Homo sapiens: one gene and its partners. The protein of the gene in region 6 purifies or fractionates together with the protein of the main gene of each other region. This does not show direct contact. Each region holds a gene or a part of one and is shown on either strand. Other genes may lie near its edges.

The links.
Region 1: the proteins of RALY (region 6) and KMT5A purify together in Homo sapiens (affinity purification with mass spectrometry; one large-scale study listed by BioGRID and IntAct). This does not show direct contact.
Region 2: the proteins of RALY (region 6) and NR5A1 purify together in Homo sapiens (co-immunoprecipitation; one study listed by IntAct). This does not show direct contact.
Region 3: the proteins of RALY (region 6) and CCP110 purify together in Homo sapiens (co-immunoprecipitation; one large-scale study listed by IntAct). This does not show direct contact.
Region 4: the proteins of RALY (region 6) and SCAF1 purify together in Homo sapiens (affinity purification with mass spectrometry; one large-scale study listed by BioGRID and IntAct). This does not show direct contact.
Region 5: the proteins of RALY (region 6) and FAM120A purify together in Homo sapiens (affinity purification with mass spectrometry; one large-scale study listed by BioGRID and IntAct). This does not show direct contact.
Region 7: the proteins of RALY (region 6) and ACOX3 purify together in Homo sapiens (affinity purification with mass spectrometry; one large-scale study listed by BioGRID and IntAct). This does not show direct contact.

What each region holds. Positions count from the first base shown.
Region 1 is NC_000012.12:123,400,914-123,405,347, forward strand, and holds part of KMT5A (N-lysine methyltransferase KMT5A), read left to right. Parts: intron 1-2,659; coding exon 2,660-2,719; intron 2,720-3,725; exon of another isoform or gene 3,726-3,838; intron 3,839-3,970; coding exon 3,971-4,161; intron 4,162-4,434. UniProt on the Homo sapiens protein: Protein-lysine N-methyltransferase that monomethylates both histones and non-histone proteins. Specifically monomethylates 'Lys-20' of histone H4 (H4K20me1).
Region 2 is NC_000009.12:124,489,892-124,494,325, reverse strand, and holds part of NR5A1 (steroidogenic factor 1), read left to right. Parts: intron 1-1,176; coding exon 1,177-1,296; intron 1,297-3,097; coding exon 3,098-3,245; intron 3,246-4,434. UniProt on the Homo sapiens protein: Transcriptional activator. Essential for sexual differentiation and formation of the primary steroidogenic tissues. Binds to the Ad4 site found in the promoter region of steroidogenic P450 genes such as CYP11A, CYP11B and CYP21B.
Region 3 is NC_000016.10:19,537,126-19,541,559, reverse strand, and holds part of CCP110 (centriolar coiled-coil protein of 110 kDa), read right to left. Parts: coding exon 3,973-4,434; intron 904-3,972; coding exon 773-903; intron 1-772.
Region 4 is NC_000019.10:49,655,468-49,659,868, reverse strand, and holds the end of SCAF1 (splicing factor, arginine/serine-rich 19), read right to left. Parts: intron 2,109-4,401; coding exon 1,980-2,108; intron 1,662-1,979; coding exon 1,470-1,661; 3' UTR 1,227-1,469; downstream 1-1,226. Other genes in the region: IRF3 (interferon regulatory factor 3), read left to right, coding at 36-280.
Region 5 is NC_000009.12:93,513,824-93,518,257, reverse strand, and holds part of FAM120A (constitutive coactivator of PPAR-gamma-like protein 1), read right to left. Parts: intron 2,592-4,434; coding exon 2,491-2,591; intron 2,276-2,490; coding exon 1,989-2,275; intron 1-1,988. UniProt on the Homo sapiens protein: Component of the oxidative stress-induced survival signaling. May regulate the activation of SRC family protein kinases. May act as a scaffolding protein enabling SRC family protein kinases to phosphorylate and activate PI3-kinase.
Region 6 is NC_000020.11:34,083,031-34,086,201, reverse strand, and holds the end of RALY (RNA-binding protein Raly), read right to left. Parts: 3' UTR 1,318-3,171; downstream 1-1,317. UniProt on the Homo sapiens protein: RNA-binding protein that acts as a transcriptional cofactor for cholesterol biosynthetic genes in the liver. Binds the lipid-responsive non-coding RNA LeXis and is required for LeXis-mediated effect on cholesterogenesis.
Region 7 is NC_000004.12:8,391,831-8,396,264, forward strand, and holds part of ACOX3 (peroxisomal acyl-coenzyme A oxidase 3), read right to left. Parts: intron 2,913-4,434; coding exon 2,790-2,912; intron 624-2,789; coding exon 503-623; intron 1-502. UniProt on the Homo sapiens protein: Oxidizes the CoA-esters of 2-methyl-branched fatty acids.

The DNA of each region.
Region 1 (4,434 bases), on a different chromosome or scaffold from region 6:
ACTCCCAAGTAGCTTGGATTACAAGTGTGCACCACTATGCCCGGCTGATTTTTGTATTTTTAGTAGAGACAGGGTTTCGTCATGTTGGCCAGGCTGGTCTCGAACTCCTGACCTCAGGTGATCCACCTGCCTTGGCCTCCCAAACTGCTGGGATTACAGGCATGAGCCACTGTACCTGACCAAGTTTTGTTGTTGTTTTTTTTAAATCTATTCCACCAATATATATCTTTCTTTTTTTTTTTTTTTTTTTTTTGAGATGGAGTCTTGCTCTGTTGCCAAGGCTGGAGTGCAGTGGCGCGATCTTGGCTCACTGCAAGCTCCGCCTCCCGGGCTCACACCATTCTCCTGCCTCAGCCTCCCGAGTAGCTGGGACTACAGGTGCCCACCACCATGCCCGGCTAATTTTTTGTATTTTTAGTAGAGATGGGGTTTCACCATGTTAGCCAGGATGGTCTCGATCTCCTGACTTCGTGATCCGCCCGCCTCGGCCTCCCAAAGTGCTGGGATAACAGGTGTATATCTTTCTTTTTTTTTTAACCTTCTTGACCCTTATCTTTCATATCTTTTAAGTGGAACATTTTAGTCCATTTATGTTTAAGGTTAATATTGATATGTGAGGTTTTGTTAGGTATATTACTATTAAATAAGTTTATGGGAAGGTTTTTTTTTGTTTTTTGTTTCTTTTTGAGATGGAGTCTTGCTCTGTCTCCCAGGCTGGAGTGCAGTGGTGCGATCTTGGCCTACTGCAAACTCCACCTCCTGGGTTCAAGCGATTCTCCTGCCTCAGCCTCCTGAGTAGCCGGGATTACAGGTGTGTGCCACCACGCCCAGCTAATTTTTGTGTTTTTAGTAGAGACGGGGTTTCGCCATGTTGGCCAGGCTGGTCTCAAACTCGTAACCTCAAGTGATCCACCCACCTCAGCCTCCCAAAGTGCTGGGATGACAGACGTGAGCCACCATGCCTGGTCATGTTTTCTGTTTTTTTTTAAGACAGGGTCTCACTCTGTTGCCCAGGCAGGAGTGCAGTGTCACAGTCATGACTCACTGCAGCCTCAACCTCCTGGGCTCCAGCAATCCTCCTCCTTCCTCAGCCTCTAGAGTAGCTGGGACCAAAGGTGTACGCCACCACACCTAGCTTATTTATTTTTTGTAGGGACAGGGTCTGGATCTGTTGCTTAGGCTGGTCTCTAACTCCTGTCCTTAAGCGATCCTTCCTCCTGGCTTTCCTGAAGTGTTGGGATTACAGGAGAGAGCCACTGCCCCTGGCCTCATTTACATTTTAAAAGACCCCTCTGGCTACCTTGTGGAGAACTGAGTGTTCCCTGGGGTCAGAGTGAAAGCCTGGTGACTAGCAAGGGGGCCGGAGCGGGGCCGGGGCCGTGGCTGGGCTGCAGGGCCGCAGTGGGAATGGAGATGGAGAGGAGGTGGCAGGATTTGGGACTGTCCTTGAGGTTACTCATTCACCATTGTTCCCAGCACAGACTGCAGCGCCTGGCACATTGCAGGTGTGGATTGAGTGCCTGGAAAAGCTGCAAGCTGGTTTGGGCCTCTGTGTAGGGGGAATGGGCTGAGCTCAGCAGTTGGTGTCAGGCTCCTGACACGTGCCATCTGGTTTGGTGAAAGTCTATGCCGTCAAGACATGCTGGTTTGGGGTGAGCCACACTGGTTTGGAGCTTCCGATCTGTCTTCATTTGGTTCCCTTTTGCTCTGTAGTATCTGTGCAGTGGCAGAGCAGTAGAACCCAGGGTTAGGGATGGAGGTAGGTGCAGGAGGGGTGGCCTTAGAGGAGAGGTGGATCCAGGGGTGCCCCCTCCCAGTTCTCTGTTCAGGTCTGTATTGACCCTCGGGATTGGAGGCCCTCTTCTCATCCATCGTGGTGGCCTCCATACAGGTGAATCTCAGCGATCCCAAACAGAAGTATGAGCCATCAGACCAGAGCCATGTGGACTGCGTGTGTCCCATCCAAAGGGCACAGCCTCTGATCTGCTGTACCCGATTTTCTTTTTTCTTTTTAAGGTGGAGTCTTGCTGTGTCGCCCAGGCTGGAGTGCAGTAGCACAATCTTGGCTCACTGCAACCTCCACCTCCCAGGTTCAAGCGATTCTCCTGCCTCAGCCTCCCGAGTAGCTGGGACTACAGGCTCCTACCACACCTGGCTAATTTTTGTATCTTTAATAGAGACAGGGTTTTACCTATTTGCCAGGCTGGTCTCGAACTCGTGACCTTACGATCCGCCCGCCTCGGCCTCCCGAAGTGTTGCGATTACAGGCGTGAGCCACCGCGCCTGGCCCACTGTACCTGATTTTCTGTGAAGTCAGAGGCCTGATTTTCAGGTGTGGGCAAGTTGGACATTTTTTAACGTGCTGCATGGGCAACAGAACATATCTACGAGCCCCATTCTGTTCTTGGGTCCCCACTGTTTCCCTCCTGATCCAGTTGAACCCCAGGTGACAGATCTTCCACAACAGATGGGTGATGAGAAAAGGAGGGATACTTGGGGGCTTTGCCATCACTGGGGACCCATCATCCCCAGTGATGCCAAATGAGGCCGATTGTGGCCCGGTGGGCATGGCCTGGGCAATCAGGGCTCAAGACCATCAAGCTACGCACGATGGGCCTAGGAGAAGATACTGATGCTGTTTTTCTTTCTCTCTGCCCAGTCTGAAGAAAGGAAAAGAATAGATGAATTGATTGAAAGTGGGAAGGAAGAAGGAATGAAGGTAAGGGGCTGCTGTGCTTGCTGCATCATAGCTAAAGCTGGAAGAGCTCACCTTCCCTGGTCCCGTGGCTGAGAGTGGCCACCATGTGGCTTTCACCCTCTAATGGCCATGGTGACCAGGCAGACTCTATTAGGTTGTCAAAGAGCCAAATACCAAAAGTTGTTAAGGAAATGTCTTATGAAGGAAACATAAATGGGCTTTGTATATAAATGTTATCCAGGGGAAGCTTTTCTTAGAAATTGTGGTTAAACAATTCAGTGGCTTTTTGTACATTCACAATGCAATGCAACCATTATCCCTGTCTAATTTCAGAATTTTTTCATCCTCCCAAATGGAAACCCTTACCCATTACTTACCACTGCCCACCATCCCCACCTCTCCCCTGCCCAGCCCCTGGCAGCCACTCAGCTGCTTTCTGTCTCAGTGGAGTTGCTCTTCTGGGCACTTCATATAAATCGGATTATACAATATGTAGCTGATGCCCAGGGAAACTTTTAAAAGGAGAAACTAATACATTTTTAAACTGTTTTCCTAGATAATGACAATGCCCAAGAAATGTGCTTTTCTCTTACTGTATTTCAACCACACTCAGTTTGGGCGAGAGGAGAAGTACTCTCTACAGTGGGGTTCAGATGGGCCTAGACTAGGGCTCCGGGTTCAGAAAGCTTCCACTTCCACCCACCACCTAGGGGGATTCCGGCTTAAGTCCTGGGCCCCTCCAGCAACCCCATTCAACTCCATGTAGAATAGAGTGAGGAGACACAGGAGAGAAATCGTGGAATGAGGTAGAGACCCAGAACACTGGGCCTGCTGTTTGCCTAGGAAGGCATAGCGCATAGCCCCTAGACAGAGAAACCAGGTGTGTGGATTTGAGCTGTGTCACTGTCTAGCTGTGTGGCCTCAGACACGTGGTTGTGCCTCTTTAAGCCTCAGTTTCCTCATCTACAAAATGGGGCAGTCTCCACCTAGCAGATCTCTCACGAGCTCTGATGTAACTGCTTTGCAGATGAGCACCAAGGAACCACGTTTGTGGAGTGAGGGAACGTTCTAGAGCTGGCCTGTAGTGACGGTTGCACAGCTGTATACACTTCATAAAACCCATCAGCCTGTACATGTAAAGTGAGTGAATTTTATGACATGGCTCAGTACAGCTGTTAAAGACTGGGGTAAGCCCCAGCTCCCCGGAGACCTGCTGTGCACAGTGGCATCCATTGCTATTATGAACCAACACCCTCTCTTATCACCTGACAGATTGACCTCATCGATGGCAAAGGCAGGGGTGTGATTGCCACCAAGCAGTTCTCCCGGGGTGACTTTGTGGTGGAATACCACGGGGACCTCATCGAGATCACCGACGCCAAGAAACGGGAGGCTCTGTACGCACAGGACCCTTCCACGGGCTGCTACATGTACTATTTTCAGTATCTGAGCAAAACCTACTGGTGAGTCCACTGTTGCTTAGAGTGGCTTTTCTGTCCTCTGGGCAGTGAGGAGAGGCCAAAGGGCCAGGAACTCCTGATTCTGTTTGGTGGCCAGTCTTTTGGTTTTGTTGTTGTTGACTTTTTTTTTTTTATTTTTTGAGATGGAGTCTTGCTCTGTTGCCCAGGCTGGAGTGCAGTGGTGTGATCTCGGCTCATTGCAACCTCCTCTCAGGCTCAAAGAATTCTCCTCCCTCAGCCTCCAGAGTAGCCCAGCTAATTTTTTTTTTCTGTATT
Region 2 (4,434 bases), on a different chromosome or scaffold from region 6:
CTAGACAGAGCTGTGTGGCCTCTCTGTTCAGTTTCTTCTCTCTATCATGTGGGTGGCGACTATACGAAACTCGCAGGGCTGTAGGGCTGCAGTGGAATGACTGTCAGCTGTCATGGTTTGCATTTGCCATAGGGCACGGCCCAGGAAGGTGCGCCAGAAGTGTCTTTTGGGTCGATGGTGGCCAGCTGGTGAGTGGCACGGGCTGAGAGGGATGGGGCTGTGTCTGCCCAGGCCCATCTGCAGTGCCCAGTGTGCTTCCAAATACCCAGAAGGGCTCGTTTTGTCACAGTGGAGATTGTGGACCGGGAATGCCAGCCGTGGCCCTGGCCTGGCCCTGCCTCTGTGTGATCCCGGGAGAGTCTCTTGCCCTTTCCGGGTGGCGGATTCCTCAGCTGAAAAATAGGGATTGGGGCCAGGGGATCCCTGGCTCTGCTTCTGAGTCCTGCAGAGTCAAAGGACACTCCAAACAGGGGCTGGCCCTGCCCCTGCACCGAGTGTCTCTGGCCGCAGCCTGGGCATTCGGAATCAGCCCCTTGTTGCTGTTCGTTTCTGCTTCATGTGCCAGGCCATTGCCGCCCCCCTGCTCATGCCCTGGGCCTGACCTCAGGCCAGGTGGGACCTCCCTCCTCCTCCTGAGCCTGAGAGCTCTGCGTAGGCCCGGGGGGGAAGCCCTTGGTTTCTCCCTCATGGCTCCTGTTTGAGCAGTTGGGGCTGCCAGAGGTGTGACCGACCACAGGCTTTTAAATGTGGACAAGGTTAAAATTAATAATAACCTTGCCAGGCATTTGTAGGAGTCCTTTGCAGAGCACCTGCATGGACATTAGTCACTAACATGTATGGCATACCTAACATGTACTGGACTGTCCGCTCAGTACTTTGCCCACTTTACAGATGAGAAAACTGAGGCACAGAAAGGTTACCAGGACTTACGTAAAGTCATACAAAAGACAGAGGTGGGGCCTGAAGCCTGGCCCATTCAACCCCCAAACATCCCTTTGTTAACTGGCCAGACCTCTGTTGCACTTTGATAGCCTAGACATCTGGGTAGATGGGCACAGAGAGGTTAGCTTGCCCAGGCTGCACGCCTAGTTGGGTCTCAGTGGGAGGAGAAGGGGTGAGAGGAAGGTCCCTGGACCCTGGCTGGAGCCCGGCCCCCCGCGTGCCTCTTCCTTCCAGGTGGCCGACCAGATGACGCTGCTGCAGAACTGCTGGAGCGAGCTGCTGGTGTTCGACCACATCTACCGCCAGGTCCAGCACGGCAAGGAGGGCAGCATCCTGCTGGTCACCGGGCAGGAGGTGACCAGTCCCTCGGCCCCGCCCCTGGGCCCCGCCCTGGCCCCGCTGTGCACTTCCAGGATTCAGGGCCCCGGAGAGGAGGACCCAGGCCTCTCGGGGCTGGCTCTGGGCACCCTAATTATCAGCCCTTTCCCCACGTTCATGGAACACCCACTGGCCCAAACCCTCTGTGAGCAGCCCTGGCCCAGGCTTGAGAGGCGCCGGCCCCTGGGAGCCCTGCTCTTGGGGAGCAGCTCAGGGGGTGTGGGCATGGTGAGGAGAGGCTCATGGAGGAGGAGGTGATGGTGGCCCTGGGTCTGGAAATAACACACTGGAGTTGGCTGGGGAATGAGGGATGAGGGGGGCAGTCCCCACGTCTACCGCAGGCTCAGAGAGGGTGGAAGTGTGGAGCCCCCGGGCCCTGCTGGTGCCGGTGTGGGGGTGGCATGAGGTGAGAGATGAGGGAGGCTAGGGGGTTGCTAGTGCTGGCTTAGCAGGCAAACCTTGCAGGCCCTAAATCTCGAATGAATGAATGAATGAATGAATGGGCAAAGGGCTCCAGAGAGCTCAGAGTCGGAATTTGGGCCCCCTTAGAGCAGGGAATGAGGATCTGGGGAGTAGAAAGTCCAGATGCAGCAGGGGTCCGGGGAGAGCTTTAGGAGGAGGAGGGACATGGCCAGGTGGTATCTGAGGAGGCAGGCGGAGGGGTCAGGATGGGAGGTGGGGGGCCAGGGTGGGGACACGGGGGCACAGCCACGGAGGAAGACTCACCTGGAGAGATGGGCTGTAGGGAAAGAGAGGGAGGGGGGGAGGCAGAGAAGGGGGTTGATGGCCAGGGTCCAGCCTGCTGGCAGGAGTGCCACTCTCAGGTGGGGACACAGGAAGGGCCGTGGGGTCGGTGGGTGCTGTGGGGTGGGGAAGACAGACTCTGCTCCCAGCTCCAGCCCTCCCAGGCCCCCACTGCTCATCTCCAGCTCTCTCCTCGGTGTCACAGGCCATCGGGGCAGGAGGACGGGACGGGCAGCACTGGTCCCAGGGGGGTGTCTTTGGGGCTCCCTGTGAGCGCAGGTGCCTGCAGTCTGCATGAAGTGTGGGTGTCCGCAGGCTGGCTGAGTCTCTGTGGCCATGGGAATGCCTGTTTGTGTGTGTGTGTGTGTGTGCCTGCCTGTGTTTTATTGTGCAAAATCTCCACACACATCAGTGTGTGGGTGTCACTGTCTTCCCATCAACCCGTAAATGTGATCACATACATGGGTGTATGTGTTGCCGTGAGTGTGAGCGTACAAGGGCGGGTGTGGCCGTGTGCACACGTGTGTGCCTTCACTTCACAGAGTGGGCGACCCCATGACTGTGCTCGTGTGTGTGTGTGTGTGACTCTGAGCTGAGCTGTGACCCAGCGTGTAGGTGTGAACATGGGGGCTCTGGGAAGCCATGTGGATGTGTCTGTGTGTCCCCACACAGGCCTGCCCTCCCCAACCCCTCCCCTCCCAGCATGTAGAGGGGCCCCCTGAGCTGCTGGTGCTGCTGGGCCTGGTGCTGGGGTTTGTGTGTGAAGGAGGGGTGGACGCGGGCAGAACGTGGGTGCCTCAGCTCCGGGCTTGGCGGGTTGAGGAGAGCTCGGAAGGGTGGGCCCGGCAGCGTCCCCGGGGCTGTGCAGATGTTACCCGTGCCTGGCTCGGCACCAAGGCTGGGCCCTCCTGACGCCAGCCCATCTGACCTGCACCTCCAATCCATGCCCTCAGCCCTGCATCCCCCATCAGAGAGCCACCTGCCCGGACCCACGTCCTCTGACTGTCCCCCGCCCCGTGCCCTCTGCCCCCAGGTGGAGCTGACCACAGTGGCCACCCAGGCGGGCTCGCTGCTGCACAGCCTGGTGTTGCGGGCGCAGGAGCTGGTGCTGCAGCTGCTTGCGCTGCAGCTGGACCGGCAGGAGTTTGTCTGCCTCAAGTTCATCATCCTCTTCAGCCTGGGTGAGTGCAGCTCCAGTGACAGAGAGGTGGAGACAGCCAGAGGCGGGTGGGTGGGAGGGTGGGTGAGGCTGGAGAGGTAGCCCTGCTGTGGCCAGAGTGGCCACGAAGGAGCCTCGGGGAGAAAGGACCCCTCCCTTACTCATTCAGTGAACAAAGGTCTGAGGGCCCCCGGCCAGGGCCTGGCTCTTAAATGGGGGCTGCTCCCGCTCTGGTGGCCCATGTGACTTTAGGATTTTTATTCCAGGCTCCCATCCTGGGGTCCCTGTTTTCTCTAATCCCTGGATCTAGGGGGCCCCAATTTTGACTGTACCTCCTGGGGGCCTGGACCCCTTTGCTCATGCACACGTGCATCCATTCATTGACTCTACAAACAGGCACCGAGAAATTGCACTGGAGAAGGCACTGGGAATACCGCTGTGAGCAAAAACCCCCCAAGCCCAGCCCTTGTGGTACTGACCTTCTCTAGGGGAGACAGATCATGAGCATAATATGATTAGTAAGACGTAGGTTCCTAACACGATTAGGCAGGCATAGCCAGGAAGGTTGTGACCAGTGCTAAGGAGGAAAAGAAAGCAGAGGAGAGGCAGAGAGCAGGCCTGGCCCAGCCCAGCCCGGCCACCCACCTCACTCCCCAAGCACTTGGGGGGTCTCCTTCCCGTTGCCCTCCTGACCCCAACCCTGCCTGGGCCACTCCAGTCTGCACCCTCACTCCCTGGAAAGCCATCACAAATGCCCTCCCCATGCCCAGAGATGCTGAGGACATAGCTGTCCCTTGCCAATCGTGAAAAGACCTACAGCCTGGGTGGTTAGGGCTGAGACAGAGAGATGGGTGTGGCTTAGGGAACCCTGGGTGGGGAGCAGAGCTCTTTCTGGAAGGCTTCCTGGAAGAGGGGCATCTGAGCAGGGTTTTGGAGGATGAGTAGGAGTTTTCTGGGGGAATGAATTATTTTGCAGTGATGCAGGTGGGATGGGATAGAGATGAGTGAGTGCTTCATCACCTGGAGAGGGGGCAGGATTAAGGTATTGTCTTGGTGGCTGGCATTATAGTCACAGTCTGCGAGGGGCATGCCTGCCAGAGAGAGGGAGGAGTGGGGAGTGGGGAGTGTTGTGGAGGCAGAGGGGATTAACGAAAAGTGGGAAGCCCAGTGCTTGGGTGGGATTGGTGACATCCTCCATGCCATGTGGCTGG
Region 3 (4,434 bases), on a different chromosome or scaffold from region 6:
CCACCTTGCGGGTTCAAGTGATTCTCCTGCCTCAGTTTCCCAAGTAGCTGGGACTACAGGTCCATACACCACCATTTTGTATTTTTTAGTAGAGATGGGATTTCACTATATGTTGGCCAGGCTGGTCTCAAACTCCTGACCTCAGGTGATCCATCCACCTCGGCCTCCCAAAGTGCTGGGATTACAGGCGTGAGCCACCACGCCCAGGCTATAATTTAATATGTGATAATGTATAGTTAAATTATTAATTATAATAATATTATAACAAGTGTCGTTCTTTTTTTTTTTCTTTTTATAGAGACAGGGTCTCCCTCTGTTGCCCAGGCTGGAGTGCAGTGGCTAGACAAAGGCGAAATCATAGCTCACTGCAGCCTTGAATTTCTGGGCTCAAGCAATCCTCCCACCTCAGCCTCCTGCATAGCTGGGACTACAGGCTCATGATACCACGCCCAGCATGAGTGTCATTTTTATGATACAACTCCTGCAGAATGTGTACTTTAGCACCTATTTATAAAATACCTTTTTAAAATATTAAGCTTTAAATCAAGGATTCAATAAAATATTCTCGATAAATTATGCAATTACTTTTAGATAAGGATCTAAATATCAAAATTCATATTTTGACAAAAAATACCATTCACGTATCAAAATGACTCCCTTACCTTAAGATATATGGAGGCAAAAATTACACGTATTCTATACATGACCAAAATTCATAGGTATCCTTGGCTAAATTTCACTTACCAGTTGTATCTCCCTCCACATTCCTCACCTTTTGCAGTCTTTCTTGTTCCCTTTCCTGCTCAGCTATGAGTAGTGATAATTGCTGGGCGTGCTGTTCTTCTAGTCTCTTCCGCATTTCTTCAAAAGCTAACATCTTGCTTTTTAGTAACTCCTCGCTTTCTGAAAAGAAACATGTTTCCTCAATTTAGAAAATTCACAAGTCTAATGTCTGATATTTTATACCATCAATTTAAATTATCCTTCTGACAAGAGAGTATTCCTGGATCTGACATAATACAATCAAGATATAGCTGGGTCTCTACTTCGAACCACACTCCTTTTATTTCATGCTACTCAATAAAGTAAGACCTGTATTGCATCACCTTTACCCACTCATTCAACAGATCCCATCCTGATCTGAAATGACAGACCCAGGACTATATATTCAGACAAGATTCTCCTGACTCTACTTAACTTTCAGATGTGGTCCTCAACTGCATCCTACCATCATTTGTTTTTTTGACACTTGTCCTCCAGGATCTCTGGTAGTGTAGCTTGTAGTTTTGCCTTGTTTTGATTTTCAAAGAAAGTGTTTCCTTGATGGTATAAAGCTTTCTCAGCTTGAGGTTTCAAAAAGGACTGGACGTTAAAATTCCAGATATTTAGTTACTAACTAAGAGAAAACATTATGACAATACAAGCTTCCTAAATAGAATGTGGTAAGACATGTTGAAATGTACAAATACCAAGTATGGGCCAGGTGTGGTGGCTCACGTCTGTAATCCCAGTACTTTGGGAGGCCAAGGCAGGTGGATCACTTGAGGTCAGGAGTTCGAGACCAGCATGACCAACATGGTGAAACCGAATCTCTACTGAAAAAATACAAGCGCATGCCTGTAATCTCAGCTACTTGGGAGGCTGAAGCAGGAGAATCGCTTGAACCTGGGAGGCGGAGGTTGCAGTGAGCTGAGATCGCACCATTGCACTCCAGCCTGGGCAACAAGAGTGAAACTCCATCTCAAAAAAAAAAAAAAGAAATTTCCACTCTGTTGGTCTTATGTACTTCTGATATTCACTGAGGCAGCCTCTTGCCTTGCTATGCTATCTACTTGGAGGATCCAAGTTGGCTCCCCAGGTAACAGTGGTTGTTTTTATTAGAGCTCTTATAAAGTTGCACAGGATGGGCCAGGGCTGGTGGCTCAAACCTGTAATCCCAGCACTTTGGGAGGCCAAGGAGGGCTGATCACCTGAGCCTAGGAGTTCGAGACCAGCCTGGCCAACATGGTGAAACCCTGTCTCCACAAAAAATATAACAGCTGGGCGTGGTGGCGCATGCCTGTAAATCTCAGCTACTTGGAAGGCTGAGGCAGGAGAATCGCTTGAACCCAGGCCTACAGTGAACTGAGATCGCACCACAGCAATCTAGCCTGGGTGACGGAGCAAGACCCTGTCTCAAAAAAAAAAAATTAAAAAAAAAAAAAGTTGCACAGGTTTTAAGCAGTCTGACCCAACCCTGTATTTCCCATAAGCCCTAAGAGCTTAACTTACTTGATTTGTATGTCTTCTATATCAGTAATAAAGAATTATCAACAATGACAACAAAGTAAGGGGTAATGAAGGAGAAAAACGTGCTTTAATAAATTGCTGTTAATGGATACAACAGAAAAAACTGAAATAATAATTTTTATTAATTAAGAACCTTTATTATTATTATTTTTTTTTTTTGAGATGGAATCTGGCTCTGTCACCCAGGCTGGAGTGCAATGGTGCAATCTCGGCTCACTGCAACCTCCGCCTCCTGGGTTCATCCAATTCTCCTGCCTCAGCCTCCCAAGTAGCTGGGATTAAAGATGTGCACCACTACGCCCAGCTAATTTTTGTATTTTTAGTAGAGACGGGGTTTCGCCATGTTTGTCAGTTTGGTCTCGAACTCCTGACCTCAAGTGATCCACCCACCTCGGCCTCCCAAAGTGCTGGGATTACAGGCGTAAGCAACCGCGCCGGCCTAAAGAACCGTTCTTGAACCACCTACTCAGAGCCTTATTTCTGATACTTTGTCTAATAATTTGATGTTAAAGTGTTTACTGAAGGACCAATTACACGAAGCTCATACTACAAATGAAAAAGCAAACTGAAATAAACATTAGAAACTATAGTCCAAAAGAAAGACCTCATAGCAATACAGTGAATTAAAACTGTAAGTGATGTTTCAGGCAAGACTGTTTGGGGCTGGGTGCGGTGGCTCATGCCTGTAATTCCAGCACTTTGGGAGGCTGAGGCGGGTGGATCGCTTGAGGCCAGGAGCTTGAGAGCAGCCTGGCCAACATGGCAAAACCACATCTCTACTAAAAATATAAAAATTAGCTGGGCCAGGTGGTAAGCACCTGTAATCCCAGCTACTCTGGAGGCTGAGGCACGAAAATCAATTGAACCCAGGAAGCAGAGGTTGCAGTGAGGTGAGAACCCGCCACTGCACTCCAGCCTGGCGACAGAGCAAGACTGTCTCAAAAAAAAAAAAAAAAAAAAAAAAAAAAGAACTGTTTCCTCCAATTATTAATATTCTCAATAATACCAAGTGGACTATGAAAGCTTCATCATTTAAATAAGAAGATCCATCCAGGCATGATGGCTCACGCCTGTAATCCCAGCTACTCAGGACGCTGAGGCATGAGAATTGCCTGAACCGGGAGGTGGAGGTTGCAGTTAGCCAAGGTTGTGCCACTGCACTCCAGCCTGGGCAACAGTGCCAGACTGTCTCAAAAAAGAAAATCCTGGCTGGGTGTCGTGGCTCACGCCTGTAATCCCACAGCTTTGGGAGGCTGAGACGGGAGGCTCACTCAAGCTCATGAGTTTGAGACCAGCTTGGGCAACATGCCAGAAACTCCATCTCTACAGTACAAAAAATACAAAAATTAGCCGGGCATGGTGGCATGAGCCTGTAGTCCCAGCTACTTGGGAGGATGAGGTGGGAGGATGGCTTGAGCCCAGGAGGCGGAGGTTGTAGTGAGCTGAAGTCATGCCACTTCACTCCAAACTGGGGTGATAGAGCCAGACCTTGTCTCAAGAAAATCTTTAAGAAAGCCTATCAAATGGCAATAAACTGTAGCTGACTAATATGCTTTCTAATAAGATAAATAAAATTAAGTGCCCATATGAATAAAGACCACTTTTTTCCCAAAAATGTCAATTAAGAGTATTAAAATAAAGGTATCTGCATAGAAGGTATCAAACGCTTCAAAGATTCCTTACCTTTGGAACTAGTTCCTAACATTTTATTCTTGTTAACGAAGCCAGATCCCTTAGGGTATCTTTTTTCTGGCAAATGTTGCCTTTCTTGTTCAGTTATTCCACTTGTTATGACATAAGGGCAGTTTTCTTTTTGCAAACCATCAATATCTAAATCAAGTCTCCGTTTAACTTTCTCAAAACTGTTATCCAAAAATTGTTCATTTCCACAGGACACCATAGGTGTGTCCATCTGCTGTCTCGTATTCTGGTTTTGCATCAATAAAGGAGAAGGGTTTTTTACATCATAAGACTTATTCAGTTCTGTTTGCAAACTGCAGTTTTTCTCTAACATACTGGCTGGCTTGAGTCCACTCACAGTTCCAAAGTTTGGACTTGCTATACACTGACTGCTGGCATATGGTTCATGCAGCTTTGGCATCGCAGCACAGGTACTGTTCATTATGTGTGCGCCTCTCTCATCGG
Region 4 (4,401 bases), on a different chromosome or scaffold from region 6:
GTTTTCCCTGACTCCTGTCCCCACTTCCCCTGCAGGTTGTGCCCACGTGCCTCAGGGCCTTGGTAGAAATGGCCCGGGTAGGGGGTGCCTCCTCCCTGGAGAATACTGTGGACCTGCACATTTCCAACAGCCACCCACTCTCCCTCACCTCCGACCAGTACAAGGCCTACCTGCAGGACTTGGTGGAGGGCATGGATTTCCAGGGCCCTGGGGAGAGCTGAGCCCTCGCTCCTCATGGTGTGCCTCCAACCCCCCTGTTCCCCACCACCTCAACCAATAAACTGGTTCCTGCTATGATCACTTGTGCGTGTCTGGTGTTGGGTGCCCTCTGACCCAATATGGTTGTTATTCCCGCTCAGGGTCTCAGTTTACCCATCTGTGCAGCTATATACAACTCAGGTGCTCAATGCATGAAGACCAAGCACTGCAGGGGGCAGCTGACACCTCCTCACTTCTGCCCAGGGACCTGGTGGGTGATGGCTGTCCCCGTGTTGTAGACCAAGACACAGGCTGGGAGAGGCGCAAAGGTCACAGAGTAGGAAACACAAAGACTAGCCAGAACCCAGGCCCCCTGCCTTGCCTATGAACAGTTTGGGCAAGTGGTCCTTCTCCTTCCAGGCCTCAGGCTCCCCTCCACGTGGGGCTGGAGGGGTCTTGGTAAAGGGGCTCTGCGGCCACCCTGGAGCCTGCAAAGCCTGCCTGCCTGGTGACCCTGGGCACTGTCACCTCTCCTGGTTGGGCCGCAGTTCTGGGTGATGAAACTGGCAGAAGCCAGCGCAGCCCTGACTCACCCTTCGGCCCTTGCTGCTCTGTGCCTCAGTTTCCCTCTCAGGACAGTTGATGAGATCACCCCAGCTTCACGGGGCTGCTGAAAAGAGAAGCCAACTCAATGGGGAACACAGATCCTGCTCTGGGAGCAATTCCAAGGCAGGCACATGGCACCCAGGAGCCGAGCTGGGAAGATGCTGATCAGGTGGGGTCCGGCCCCTGCCTCCCTGTGAGCAGCTCGCTCCCAGCCAGAGACTGTGCTAAGTGCTCCACCTGTGTCTTGTTCAATCATCACAACACCCACTACACAGATAAGAAAACTGAGGCCCAGGGGAGGCAGCTGCCCCAAGTCACAGTCTGGTCTCTGTCTCCCATCCTCAGCCTCCTGGGGGTCCCTCCCCAACCCTCTGGCAAATTTGTCTCCGAAAACAAAGGGTTAGAACCATGGGGCTCAGGGGTAATGTTTCATGAAATCTTTAATGAAATTGGGGAGAGGGGCACAAACAGAAGGGAGGGGCACTGGGGACAGGCTTGGGGGCAAGGGAGGTGGACACGGGGCAGGGCAGGGCAGGGGGCTCTCCTCTTCCCTGCAGCAACCCTCCCCCAGTCATCCCACTGACGGGGGAGGGAGGTGGGGAGGTGGAGCCATAAATACGTCCAGAGTTTCAAAGAGGTGAGGGGCGAAGAGCTGGCCAGGGCTCTCAGAGAGGGGGCAGGGGCAGGCCCGGGCCACCCTTGTCTGGGGGCCCTGGCTCCTTGGGCGGCCGTGGGGGCCCTGGGGGGTCCCCTGGCTTGCGACCGTGCTTGCGGAAGTAGCGGTAGCGCTGGACGTAGGCCCGCACCAGGTTGCTCACCTTCACTGGGTTGATTTCCCCACTTTTGCTGTGGCAGATCTGGGGGGCCGGGGACAGTTGGAGTCACCACCAGGCTCCCGGGGCCCCATCCACCCAGGACTGTTGGGCGCAGCTTGGAACTGCGGTAGGAGGAGCTTCCCCAATAACCAGGCCAAAGTCCCTCTGTCCCCCTAGACGATGGGTGCCCCAGGGCCAGCGGAACAGGCCCAGGTGGCCTTGAGAAAATCCTGTCACCCTCCTCACCTCCCAGACTGACCTCCTCCCCGTCTCCCATCCGCGTCCATCTGTCTGCACACATCTGTCCCTCCAGCTCGTTCTCTCCCCGGCCTGTGTCTGCCCCTCTCTCCGGGTGCCCACCTTGTGGACGGCCTTCCTCAGGATGTCCTTGTACTCCTCCTTGGTGATGTCCTTCTTCTGATAGTATGGCTTGATGGCCAGCTTCACCTCCTCCACCGCCCGCTCCTGCGTGTGCAGCTTCTTCAGATACTGGTGGGGTGGCGACAGCGGGGGAAGACACAGCAAGGGCCAGTGAGTACCTGCGGAACCTCCACCTCCACTCGCCTCTGCTGCCAGCCTAACCTCTCTGGCCGTCCAGCTGCTCTCAGGCTGGAAGTCCTGCTGAGGGTCTGTCCCATGCGCCCTCTGCTGCAGGTGCCCGGGACCAAAGGCCAGGCCTGGGCCTCTGCATGTCACTGAACATCTCCTCCAGGCCGAACCCTGGGCTGCTCCAGGCCTGGCCGGGACCAGGACATGTGTGTCGCCTGCCCTCACAAAGTTCAGTCTGATGAGAAGACAGGCATTGGCCAAGAAATTGCAGCTGGTTTTGAATCAGACTCTAGAGGCGGGGCTGTAGAAAACTGCACAGGGCTTTTCACCGCGGGAGCGGGGAGGACTCAGTTTAGGTTTTTACAGTACTGCTCTGGTCACCCAGGGGATGGAGGGGGTGGCTAGGGGTGAGGGGCACTGGGGAGTGGGGGTGGGGACTGACCTTGAGCCCATTTGTATCAGAAGCCTGGTCTGCCACTCCCTGTCTCTGACCCCTGGGATGCTCAGCCAAACCTTTTTGTGGCTCCTTTTTTGTTTCTTTGTTTTTGAGACAGGGTCTCTCATTGTCATGCAGGCTGGAGTGCAGTGGCACAATCACTGCTCACTGTACCCCTGGTCTCCTGGGCTAAAGCGATCTTCCCACCTCAGCCTCCTGAATAGCTGGGACTAGATGTGCCACCCCCACGCCTGGCTAATTCTTGTACTTTTTGTGGCGACTAGGTCTCACTATGTTGCCCAAGCTGATCTTGAACTCCTGGGCTCAAGCGATTCACCCGCCTCGGCCTTGCGAAGTGTTGGAATTACAGGCATGAGCCACCGTGCCTGGCCACCTTTGTGGCTCATTTGTAAAACGGGGACAGCACCTATGGGCAGTACTACAGCGACACACATGGAGGACATGGCACAGGCTGGGTACAGAGCAAAGACTCAATCCAGGGGAGCTGTGCCTGTTCCAAGGGGGATGGCCATGGGATGAAAAGGGGAGGACGCAACAGGGACAGGGCAGAGAGCCTCCGAGGCAAGGCTCTTCCCGCCTGTGGCCAGCAAGCTAGGAGATCCCGCAGCCGCAGGCTCGGGGCAGCAGCTGCAGCCCTGGCCTCAGGCAGAATCCTTGCAAAAGCAGACAGGAAACCTCTAGCCAGAGAGCCACGTGGGACCAGAGAAGAACAGGCCTTCTGCAGGCACAAGGGACAGTCCCTTGGCACCACCCTTGGAGAAGCTGCCCTCCCAAGCCAGGTGACTATCAAAGTAGGGGCAGGTAAACTGAGTCCTGGGAAGGGCAGGGCACAATGGCTAGCCGACTCCAGGAGCAACATCAGTGACACTGTCTGACGAGCTACTGAGCTGTTAGGGAACTCTGTGGCCAGAAGAGACACAGGCTGCCCTGGAGGGACTTCTCAGGCTTGCCTGGCCCCACAGGATGTGGGTCTCTAGAGAGACGCTGCTCCCCAACACCCATCTCGGATGGGCAAAGCGGGGCAAAGGGCAGAGCACAGACCAGGGCAGAGCAAGGGCCACTGTAGACCAGGGGGTCCTCACCGTCCGAGTCCTGCAGCGCAAGGCACAAGCTACGGACAAGTGACCGACTAAACTGCAGCCCCGCCTCTGCGGCTCACACAGGATGTTTAATGGGGTTTATACAGCTTTATCTGGCACGGTACACAGCTGTGTAAGGGTGGCCAACGTCACCGTCTGGCTATGGGCTACTAGACTGTAAGAAAACACATCTAGGCTGGGTGCAGTGGCTCATGCCTATAATCCCAGCACTTTGGGAGGCTGAGGTGGGAGAATCACTTGAGCTCAGGAATTTGAGACCAGCCTGGGCAACATAGTGAGACCCCAACTCTACAAAAAATTAAGAAATGAGCTGGGCATGGTGGCGCGTGCCTGTAGTCCTAGCTACACAGGATGCTGACGTAGGAGGATCCCTTGAGCCCGAGAGATCAAGGCTGAGGCTACAGTGAGCTGTGACTGTGCCACTGCATGCCAGCTTGGGTGACAAAGCGAGACCCTGTCTCAAAAACCAACCAACCAAGGCCGGGCACGGTGGCTCACACCTGTAATCCCTGCACTTTGGGAGGCCGAGGCTGGCAGATCACCTGAGGTCAGGAGTCAAGACCAGCCTGGCCAACGTGGTGAAATGCCGTCTCTACTAAAAATACAAAAATTAGCTGGGTGTGGTGGCGGGTGCCTGTCATCCCAGCTACTCGGGAGGCTGAGGTAGGAGAATCAC
Region 5 (4,434 bases), on a different chromosome or scaffold from region 6:
AAGGATGCCTGTGATCAAGGGTTTCACCCCAAGTTGAATGCTAGTTTCTGACCCCAAAGCCTTCAGGAACAAGCACCCTTGTCTCCTCTGCCTTCATTCATCTCAAGTCTAACATGTCTGTCTCTTCCTTATTATAGGGTGTACCCTGCATTCCTCATGGCACTTCATACCACAAGGATGGCAAAACACAAGACCCCGAGCAGGTCAAATTCCAGTGGCAGAAACAAGATGCATCTCCAGAAAACAGTAAAGATGCCATACCAGGAATAAAGACAATAAGCACTTGGAGAGGTCAGATGCCCAGAGCTCCAAAAAGCTGACCAGAACCTTCACAGACAGGTAGGAAGTGCATACCCAGAAAAGACAGGACATGCTCAGGCAGTCCTACTCACTCCAAGTTCAGCTCATCCTAACAAAGACAACTTGCCAAATTAGATGGGCAACTCACATTCTTCTCAATCCCTCCCCACCGGAGGAACAAGCACCTCAACTGAAACATGCCCCAGTCACCACCCACGTCCCCAAGTCAGCACCTTGACCTGGTTTCCACATCTCCATCACTAGCATGGAACTCTTGTTGGGGTCATAAAGCTTACTTCTTTTGCTTTTTGTCTTACTTCTTACCTATGTTTCACAGTTTAGAAAGAACATTTCTTACTAAGACAAAAACTGTATTGTACAGACACTTGGACCTTGCTGACATGAGTCACGTTTTACAACAAAATGCACATGCCTTAGAAATCTGGCACATAAGGGCTTCCAAGACCATCAAGCAGTTGTTCTCAAACTTCAGTGTGCTAAAGACTGACTGAGGTGCTTATTTAAAATGCAAATTTGGGGGCCCCAACCAGAGATTCTGATTCAATGGGTACTCAATATATTATCTTGCTAGAGGTTAATTTAAAAATTTGAATATTCAATTGCAACTCTTTACTTCATTTTAGAGTCTTGGCATTGCATATACAGCAAATAAACATTTATTAATTTTATACTTCTCTGCACATACAACAAATCAACATTTATTAATGTTATACTTCTCTGCTATAAACAGGGTATGCATCCCTGGATGGCAGAGAGTCCTTCAGTAAGCTCTGCCCTGGGTCAACAGACATTTATTCCCATTTCACAGATGGACAGAGGACAGAGAGGAAAAGATCACCTGCTTCAGGTGACACACAAGGTAAGAACTGGCATGGAAGCTGACACCTATGTCTCTTACATTTCCTACATCAGAAACAGATGTAACATCAACCAGCCCTGGTTATCTGCGCTGTAAAGTAGAGTTCACACCAAGGAAAAGGAGACACTGACTTAAAGAAAAGAAATATTCTTTCCCTGTTTTTTTTGTTTTAAACATAAGACAATTTAAAGAAAGGGAGGAGTGCAAATTAAAGATTTCCTCGATCAAATTTTAACCAACTATGTATTTGTGAACCCATTTATTCAGGGACACACAGTGTTTAAAATACTCCTCTAAGGAAACAATTCCAGCCTGGGTCTAGGCAGCTTTCTAGGGTTTTGCTTGGGCAAACAGTGTTATTTCCAAAGTGTCCTGTAACCTGCTGAGTTTAGGAGAAGGAGAGGAAATTCAGAGCTCCCTTGATCCAGGAGCCAGAAGATTAATGTTTCGGGGGTCGGCAGGGGGTTGCTGTGACGGGTGTGAGTGGCACCACACCGGACAAATGCCCCCATGTTTTGGTCATCACACAAACCAGTTCTTGTCAAATTCCTCCCCAGAAAGTTTCCTGTGGCTCCAGGCCATGGGGCTGGGATAGTGCAGATTTTAAATCATGGAAACTTCAAGAACATACCTACTCTTCCTCTCTCCTCTCTGTCCAAGGAGCCCCCATCTGAGTACAGACTGACCATCACCCACCTGCAATAAACTACATCTCTGAGCAAAACACCAGCTGGGCTGGCAGGCCAGAAGGCAGCTTCCCCAGGTCACTACCCGCCAGGAAGCACCCAGCGACCCACGCACCACTCACTTTGTCGCCCCTCCGCTGCCCTCGTCGTTGTCGGAAGATGACGATGTAGAAGAGCCAGGGAAGTAGGCGGAATCCACGTGGTTGGGGCTGCCGCTCTGGGCCGGGTTGATGGGCGAGGACCGCTCATACAGCGGCGTGTGCTTCCCTTCGTGAGGAATGTTGCTGTAGCTGTTCTGCTCCGTCAGATTCTTCCCGCTCGTGTCCAAAGTGAGAGGTGCTGGCTCAGAGAGGCTGTACGGGTATGGACCCTGGCCCGGGGCGCCCCCTGGGCTGGGCACCTGTGGGGCCTGAAGCGAAGGGCACAGGTCACGCACACGTGGCCAGCAGGACCCGACTCAGGCCCAGGCTGACGTTTCCTGGCTCATTTTTATTTCAACAAACACTGGCATCTATTTCACGTATCAATTCAAGAGGTTAGGAACTTATTTTAGCATTCGTTGAAATTCAATGCACGCACCCTGTCTGAGACCCGCCACCCGACCCAACGCAGGGAAGGCCTTACCACGGGCTTTGCTTGCAGAGAGGTCTGCGGAATGTTGAGCATCTGAGGAGGAACATGCGGCGGCACCATCCCAGGCATTCCAAACGGACCGGGTCTGGCTGCTTCACCAACACAGAAAGAAAAGAATCACACAGCTGTGAACAGAATGCGTTTTCCAGGGCATCCTGGGGGCCAGCCCATGGCGCCAGGGATCTCACCCTCACCTGGCTCAGACATCGACACCACCATGGGTCCCACTTCTCAGAAATCATTACAAATTGCCATTTCACAGTAAGGAAAACTTAATTTTATGATGCTCCATTTGATGGACTCGGGCTGGGATTCTAACTTTCCAGATTTCTCAGTGAACTTGCCATAGTGGTTCTGCTCTCGTGTACTTCCTGAGGGCCTCGGCTGTCCCTCTGCCTGCAACTTGGTGGGGATTCTCTGTAACTCAGTCTCCCTGCTCAGGGCTGCTCCTAGCCTGAGGTCTCCGTGAAACCAGAAGCCCTGGCAGGCATGAAAGGAACAAAGTCGGACCGAACAGTTTCCTTTACCTTTGTCAAGCAAGAGGACTTTTCTATTTAAAGTACATTGCAACTACCATTAGGTTCTCAGCTAACTAGTGAGTTTTTAAATATAAAAGGAATTGCTTTTCATTGTTCAGCAATTAGGTTACACATTTTAACACATATACAGGATGAGTAATTTGTGATTCTGTGTTCTCTTAAAACATAATTTCATAAACCTGCCTGATGTGTGCTGCCATGTGCTAGTCATCATTCCCACGCTACCTTGCAAAAATGAAGAAATCTGTGAGAGGACTGAAAGCCACATAGAGGAATGGCTGAAGCAGGACAGCAGGACATGGAACCAGGCCAGCCTGAAGCTGGGACAGAAGGCAGGGGCTGGAAGCCTCCCCACTCAACCTCTGGCCTCGCGCGGCCTAACTAAGCACAGGAAGAGAGCTCAGGGGCCACGTCAGCCAACAGAAGTGAATGAGTGAGTAGATGGTGCCCATAAAGGGCTGTTCCAGAGACAGCACAAGACCCGCAGTAACAAGGACCGACTGGGGCCCAAATGATATGCAGGAAGCAGGAGGACATGGGACATGGACCTCTAGGAGCTGCACTCCCTCTCAGAACACTTAGGTGCTGAGGGCCTATGATGTGTCAAGCTGAGGACTGGGCCTGGGGATGAAAGGAGCCCTGAGGCGGTTTAAGTAAGATGCACACTGCTGAAGACACAGAGAAAATAGAAAACCTGTGTGAGACACAACAGATCCACCAGGGGCTTGCACGGCTGCACCATCTCTTCCTTGGGTTTGTTTTAAATGTGGAAGAAAACCAAGCCCAGAGCTTGCTGACTCCAATTTCCCTCTTTAAGCAGTAGATATGCTTCTACAACCTCTTCATCTGAACACCAGTTGATATGGTTAGGCTGCACATCCCCACCCAAATCTCATCTTGAATTATAATCCCCATAATCCCCACGTGTCTAGGCAGAGAGACTAGGTGGAGGTAATTGGATCATAGGGGCAGTTTCTCCCATGTTCTTCTAATGATAGTGAATGAGTTCTCACAAGATCTGATGGTTGTATAAGGGGCTCTTCCCCCTTCACTCGACACTTCTTACCGCTGCCTTGTTAAGAAGGTGCCTTGCTTCCCCTTCAACTTCTGCCATGATGCTAAGTTTCCTGAGGCCTCCCCAGCCATGCTGAACTGTGAGTCAATTAAACCTCTTTCCTTCATAAATTATCCAGTCTCAGGCAGTTCTTTATAGCAGTATGAAATCAGAGGAAAACACCAGGCAAGGGGAACACAACCCAAGAACCACCACCTCTCACACTGCCTACTGCCAATATAGGTAAGGACAGAAACATTCCCCAAACCTTCACTCTCGTTCTCTGAAAAGCAAATGTCCATGGCTGCATTCACAAGAGGTTCCCTAAGCCAACACTGGGCG
Region 6 (3,171 bases):
ATGGTGAAACCCCATCTGTACCAAAAATACAAAAAAATTAGGCAGGTATGGTGGCACATGCCTGTTGTCTCAGCTACTCAGGAGGCTGGGGTGGGAGGACTGCTTGAGCCTGGGAGACAGAGGTTGCAGTGAGCCGAGAGATTGTGCCACTGCATTCCAACCTGGGTGAGACCCTGATCTCAAAATACATTTTATGTGTGTGTGTGTGTGTGTGTGTGTATGTAATAATATAATAGATGGTAAGATCTGTGATGGAAGTAGCACGTGAGAGGGCAGTTCTAATTCAGGCCAAGAAAGTGTCTTTGAGCAGGCAACTTCTGAGCTGTTATAAAGGATAACAAGGGTTAGCCAGTGGGGGAAGACAGCATTTGAGGTAGAGATAACAGCATGTGTAAAGGCACAAGCCAGACAGCACAGGTCTTTCCACAATTTATTCCACGTGGCTTGAGACATGGAGGAGGCAGATTACGGGAGGGGAGGTGTTGAGAAGGGGTCAGTCATATCTTGGACATCTTAGGATGTCATGCTAAGGGGTGTGGATCTTACCCAATGGGATGGTGATAAAACGGATAGCCGAGTAGGAAGAGCAGCAGGGAGCCTAGTTAGAGGTTACTGCAAAAGTCCAATTAAGACACAGAAAGGACCTAAGATAACCAGGGAAAAATTAACACAGAGGGAAAAATTAATGGAGCAGTGGAGGAGGTTGACACGGGCAAGTGGGGGCTGGACAGGTCCTTGTGGACATCGAAGTACAGTTATTAGATGGGCATCTGTACCTACTCCCCTGGTGTTCTTGGGAGGAAAATGAGTTAGAGGTGAAGATTATGGAGCCATGAGTGGAGTCTGAAGCCACGGATGAAGTCATCCAGGGAGCAAGTACATAGAAAAGAGGGTAGACAGATGCAGGCATATGGGTAAGAGTCAGCAAGAGACGGAGTCTTGCTCTGTCGCCCAGGCTGGAGTGCAGTGGCGCGATCTTGGCTCACTGCAAGCTCCACCTCCCAGCTTCACACCATTCTCCTGCCTCAGCCTCCCAAGTAGCTGGGACTACAAGCGCCCGCCACCACACCCGGCTAATTTTTTTGTATTTTTAGTAGAGACGGGGTTTCGCCGTGTTAGCCAGGATGGTCTCGGTCTCCTGACCTCGTGATCTGCCCGCCTTGGCCTCCCAAAGTGTTGGGATTACAGGCGTGAGCCACCGCGCCCAGCAACAAAACCTATACTCTTAACCTAGCCCCCTGAGAAGCACAGCAAGCTACTGAACCTCTGTGGGCCTGTGTCCTGGTTATCTACTGATACAACAAATCACTCCAAAAGTTAGCATCTTCAAACAACGTTTTATTATCTCTCATGGTGCTGGGCTTTGAATGGCATCAGTGAGGCAGTTCTTACTTTGTTCTCAGACGGTGGCTGGGCTGGAGTCATCTTGAAGCCTTCCTCTCTCATGTCTGACATTTGATACTGCTGTCAGCTGAACATGTACACGTGGCCTCTCTGTGTGGCCTGGGCTGCTTCACAGCATGGTGGTTGGGTCCCAAGAGCTAGAGTCCCAAGAGATAATAAGTGGAAGCTGCTAGTGCTTCAGTCTGGGACTGGGAGACTGGCAGAGCACCACCACCATCATATGCTATTGATCGGTCACAGAGTTTAGATAAAGGCGAGGATAGGATAGAGATGCCACCTTTACTTGGGGCCATGCTTTTAAACCTCATCTACAAAATCTATAGAATAGACATAACCACACAGTGGATGCCTGTTTTTGTTAGCCAAGCCTTGCTCTCCTTTTGGGGATTCTCCCCTCTGTCCCTCTATTCTCACAGGCCCTATGGCCATGCTCTACCACTTCTTGGAACCTGCCCGAAAACCAGATTTTTTCCCCTTGAGTTGGGGTCTCGCTTTGTCACCCAGGCTGGAGTGCAGCGGCAGGATCATGGCTCACCGCAGCATTAACCTCCTAGGTGCAAATGATCTCCCACTGTAGTCCCCCAAGTAGCGGGGACTACAGGCACGTGTCACCATGCCTGGCTAACCGGATTCTCGATGGCAGCTTTTGAACCCAAGTCCCCATGTCTGAAGATCCCTGGACTTTACAATTTGTGAGCCAATAAACTTCCTCCCACTAAGCAGGACTGAATTCAGTTTCTGTAACTTGTAACCAGAAGTCCTTACTACACCTACTGAGGGTGGTTGTGGAGATTAAGTAAATGTAAAATGTGCTTTTTAACAGCAGGTGTTCAGGAAATGGTTTACTGTTATGGAGGAAGTTTATTATGAAGAATCTGGCTACTGGTGGAGGGATTTTGATTTGCCTAAAACCTCAATCAATCAATGATCTGGTTGGGATGAAAACCAAGGATGCCTGGCTCAGAATCTTTTGCTCTGCTTTGCCTTCTCTATTTCTGTGGTCTTGTCAGACAGGCCTACTGCATATAACATCCTATGGGGCAGGTTATGACCTTACGGGTCAACCTGGCCAGGGATGGCAAATACCTGACGCTCACGTGCCCACACTTGAATTCCATGCTCATAAGAGAAACTGCCAAACTATCATGTCAGTATTTCCAAACAGTCTGAAAATTGCTGCAGATCCTCAAAAGGCACTCCAGGCAGCTGCTACTAAAAGTTCTGAGTTGGCAAGTGAAATGAGTCCTGAGGTAGATTTTTTAAATATGGCCATATTTTGAAGCTCCTCCTGTTAAGAAGAATTTGGGCTTAGCCATGTGACTTACTTTGGCCAAAAGATACGTCATAGCAATATCCTCAAGAGCACTCGCATACTGGGCTTGTCTTCTCTTGCGGTTTTTGGAACTCAGCCATGATGTCTAGAATCCTGGGTCAGCCTGCTAGATGCTGGAACGTGTGGCCCAGTTGCCCAGCCAACCACCTGACAGGCGGGCGAGGCCATCTGAGACCAGCCAGTCCCCAGCTGATCTGCCAGCTCACTTCAGCCACACGAGGGCCCAGATGAGATAAGAACCACCACACTGAACACAGCCCAAACTGCCAAGCCACTCACTCAGGAGCTAATAAATGTTTATTAAGGCTACTAAATTTGGGGGTGGTTTGTTATACAACAGTCAGTAACTGAACAAAGGCCCATTTACTATCCCTGATCCAGATCAACCTCTCATTTTACAGCTGAGGAAACTGAGACCTGGTAAGGAAAAAGAC
Region 7 (4,434 bases), on a different chromosome or scaffold from region 6:
TAACAGCTGCCTCAGTCATCATCAATGCCGATATAACTAACTCTTTATCTAAGTGTAAGAATTTTCTATTCAAACAAAACATGGTGCTAGTTTACTACCAAGCTGTTAACCAAATAGTTAAAATTCAAATGAGCAGATCAGCTGCTCTCTGCCTATATTTTGGCCAAGAAGCATCAGGCATCTGAAAGCAGTGGGATCTATCTAGGGCAGGGGTTGGCAAACTTGTTCTGCAATGGACCAGAGAGTAAATATTTTCAGCTCTGTAAGCCACATGGTCTCTGTCACAGCTGCGATTACTCATCTCTGCCCTTGCAGTGCGAAAACAGCTGCAGGAAATGTGCAAATGAACGGGGGTGGCTGGCTGTGTTCCAATAAAACTTTATTTGCAAAAACAGGTGGCAGGCTGGATTTGGTCCTCAGGCCGCAGTCTGCCGACCCCTGGTCTAGAGTCAAACAGCAGGGCTAAGGACAGGAAACCACCATGCGCTTCTCCAAAACCTACTGGCCAGATAGCCGTGTCCTCCACACGCCTCCCGGCATTCCTGAATTCCTTGCTGGGTGGTCCACGAGGCCAGGGGCTTGCTGGCCGATGCCAGGGCGTGGATCTCACGTCCAAGCTCTGCCTTTGGGTGAGGGAATCCAACAAGAACAGGTGAAAAGAGACTTTAGACACCAAAAAGTCATAAGTCAGCAATAGCATCAAACCACCATATCACCTCTAGTCTAATACAAGACATCCCGAAAATGACAGAAGAGGAAACCTAATTGTAATTAGAAATAAAAAAGGGTCTTTATCCAAGTATGGATACACTGTGGTACGCTCATACCATTTCACAACAATGAAAACACAGCTCTACACAGCAAATAGCTCTCAGGGCCCTAACACGGGTCCCAGAAGCAAACTGCAGAAGAATGTGCGTCATGGCCCACTTTATATAAAGTTCACAAACGTCAAAGTGAATGACACACCATGGAAGGTTGCAATTGTTTGCAGCGAAACCATGAAGAAAGGCCAGGGAACCAGACTCAGCACCGCAGACAGTGCTCGCTCCCAGGACAGGGAAGGGCCGGGACCAGTCCATTCCCAGAAGGCTGCAAGCGCCTCGGTAACTGATGGTCTGCTCTGTGTGGGGGCTCACCGTGCCTCCCTCAGGCCTAACATGTTTTATTGAGACTCCTTTGCTGTCCATGGCCAAACTACCCTGAATGAGCCTGATCTCGTGAAGCTAAGCAGGGTCGGGCGTGGTTAGTATTTGGATGGGAGACCGCCTGGGAATAGCAGGTGCTGCAGGCTTTTTTTTAAGGGGAAAAAAAAAAGAAAGAAGACTCCTTTGCTTCTGCTTGATATCTAATGATGAAAACTTAAGAGGCTGGGCCAGGCACAGTGGCTCACGCCTATAATGCCAGCACTTTGAGAGGCCGAGGCGGGCAGATCAGTTGAGCTCAGGAGTCTGAGAACAGCCTGGGCAACATGGTGACACCCTGTCTCTACTGAAAAATAAAAAAAATTAGCCAGGTGTGGTGGCGGGCACCTGTAGTCCCAGCTAGTCTGGGAGGCTGAGGCAAGAGAATTGCTTGAACCCAGGAGGCAGAAATTGCAGTGAGCCAAGATCGCACCACTGCACTCCAGCCTGGGCAACAGAGCGAGACTCCGTCTCAAAAACAAACAAACAAACAAACAAACAAAAACTTAAGAGACTGATTCAGAGTAAAAGAAGAATTTTTAATTTTAAAAAAGAAAGACAATTAAAAAGGAAAAACAATTAAGAGGAAGACACACACACGCACACACACACACACACACACGCACACACACACACACACACACACGCATGCTAAGTCCAGTGACCCATTTTATGAGTGTTTTCAACTTCACATAAGGGGCTGAGCTGAGGCCCTCCTCTGCCTGGGTTAAACCACTGAGTTTCAGAAAGAATCAGCCTGGTCACCCTTTACAACATTATTCACAGGAGAACAATGCAAGTGTCAGCTGGCAAAAGCTCCACTGACTCACGCTCCAGGGAAAACACAGGCTTAACCCCTTTAGTGGTCAGAAGCGCTCCCTCCTCAGGCCTCCAGGCCTGGGGTTTGCTCTGCCATCAATCCTGCAGGTCATCCCTTCGCCATCATCTGCCGTGAATGTGGACACCGATAATATTTCAAGATATGCTAATTAGATACAGGCTTTTTCTGATGTTGTACATAACAGCAATCTGTGGCGTTTCTCCTCTGCTTTCAAACACGGTTATTTCTTTTGATTCACATTTCACTCTTGCTCAGGAGGCAGCAGGAGGGACAATGGAAAATCAGTTCATAATCATCTACAAAGAAATCCGTTCCCGATGTCTCTTTATGCCGAGGCTGATCTCGGGATTTGCACGCTCGTTTCTGGCACAAATCCTCTGACTGTCAACTCAAATCCAGTCAGTGGGATTCAGACCTTTGTGCAGCTGTTTACAAAAGGCTCAGAACCATGAAATCCACTGAGGGGCGGGTAACGTGGATTTTGCAAAACCGTCATGTTCTCAAAAGGAGACCAACAGCTGAACTCACAGACTGGAACCGGGAGTCGTGTCAGCACATCCTTGAGAGGCAGGGGTGTGGACGCGTGCCCAGCCCGTTCAATCGCGGCAGAGGCCAAGAGCTCCGAGTGGGTGGGAACAACTGGAGGAATGCTCTGTCCTCGCAAATCAAAGGACTGATTTTGCTTTGAAATGAAGGTTGAATCTATGCTGCTCCAACCGTGTGAGATTTAAACGATGCTGCTGAGGAAGCAGACACCACCTCACCTGTCTGGCGCTGCGGTCTCCCGATGCAAGTCCTCGCTGGAGCTCCACCAGGTCCAGGAAGAGCGACTTGGAGAAATGGTCTAAGGCGTAGACAGCTGCCAGATATGGAAGCAAGCGCCATTGCTAGAACAGACAAGACACCTGCGTGAACACATCGTGGTTCCCATGAAGGGCAGCCCATCCCAGGGACCATGAAAGCCAGTGCAGGGAGAGGCCGTCAGGGCCACACACCCACTAGCGCTGAAGGTCTTCACATGTCTTCCCGGCACATCAGAAAGCCTTCACCCTGACACGCTCTCAACTCAGCCAGTTCGGCTTTCACCCATAGCCCTTGACAGACAAGCTCAAACGCAATTCGCTAAATGGCCGCTATTCACAGCTGTCCCATCAAAGTCACTACAGAACAAAGTGCCAGTCTATCTGTGAATTAAGAAGGCAGCACTGCTAGGGGCCAACTCCCCGGCACACGGACTGACTGGCTGACAGCATGAGCCTGTGAGGATGAGGCCGTCACCCTGGGACAGATGGGAAAGCTGAGGCCCACACAGAGCTGGCAGCCCCTCGAAAGGCTGAGTGCATGTCTTTTTCACTTTGTCTGAAACAGGATAGGGTCCACCTATTGTTGGATGGGGGGGTGGGTGGGTGGGTGGATGGATGCATGGATGGTGGGTGGTGGGTAGGTGGATGTGTGGGTGGGTGGATGGATGAATCCGTAGATGGGTAGATGGATGGGTGGGTGGATGCGTGGACAGGTGGGGGGATGCGTGGACAGGTGGGGGGATGCATGGATGGGTGGGTGGGTGGCTGGGTACATGGCAGGACAAGCCTGAGAGGATCCTGAGGAAACCGCCATCACCACCATGGTCTAACGTGTCAAGAGTGCTGAGCAGACATGGCGCCAGCTGCCTCCATGCCCTAACTTTGTTAATCCTCACACTGATCCTAGGAAGAAGTTTTATCATCAGTTCTAACTTACAAATGATAAAGCAAGAGCACAGAAAGGCTAAGGACCTTGCCTGGGGGCACACAGCCAGCTGGGGGTGGACCTTGGTGGTAAGGCCAGGCATGGTGGCCCCAGTGCGCTCTCTTGACCGCCGAGCTGCCCTTGGCACCCAGAGTGCTGTGACCACACACGGGAGGGGATGGGTGCCACACAGGCATGAATGGCAACACTTACTAAACAGGCTCATAGCCCTGGTCAAAGGATGTGGACAGAAACAACTGCAATTCTGTTACAATTTCCTGGAAGTTTCACCCAAATCTACCTTTATTCATGCACAGCTTGGCCTGGGACCTGGGCCTGAGTTAGCCTGTGCACTTTAACTGGATTTCTTATTTGATCCTCAGTTCTCTCACCTGTAAAGTGGGACTAAGCCCAACCCTCTTAGCTGTGAAGACCAAACCCAGAGCACAGGGCACGTTCGCTGTGACAGTTCATCCCCCTTCCATGTAACAATGTCTGTGCTTTTCCACGCTGCTGCCTGGGCTGCATCTGTGCATGTCAACAGCTGCCCCATCTCTGGGGACGTGTAGGGCCAACGCTCTGTGCCCACGCCACTGTTCTAAATGCCATCACAGTGAACAGGGCTGCACGCTCAGCTGCTGCTTCTTCCAGATCACCTGCCAGGAATCATTTCTTAGGGAT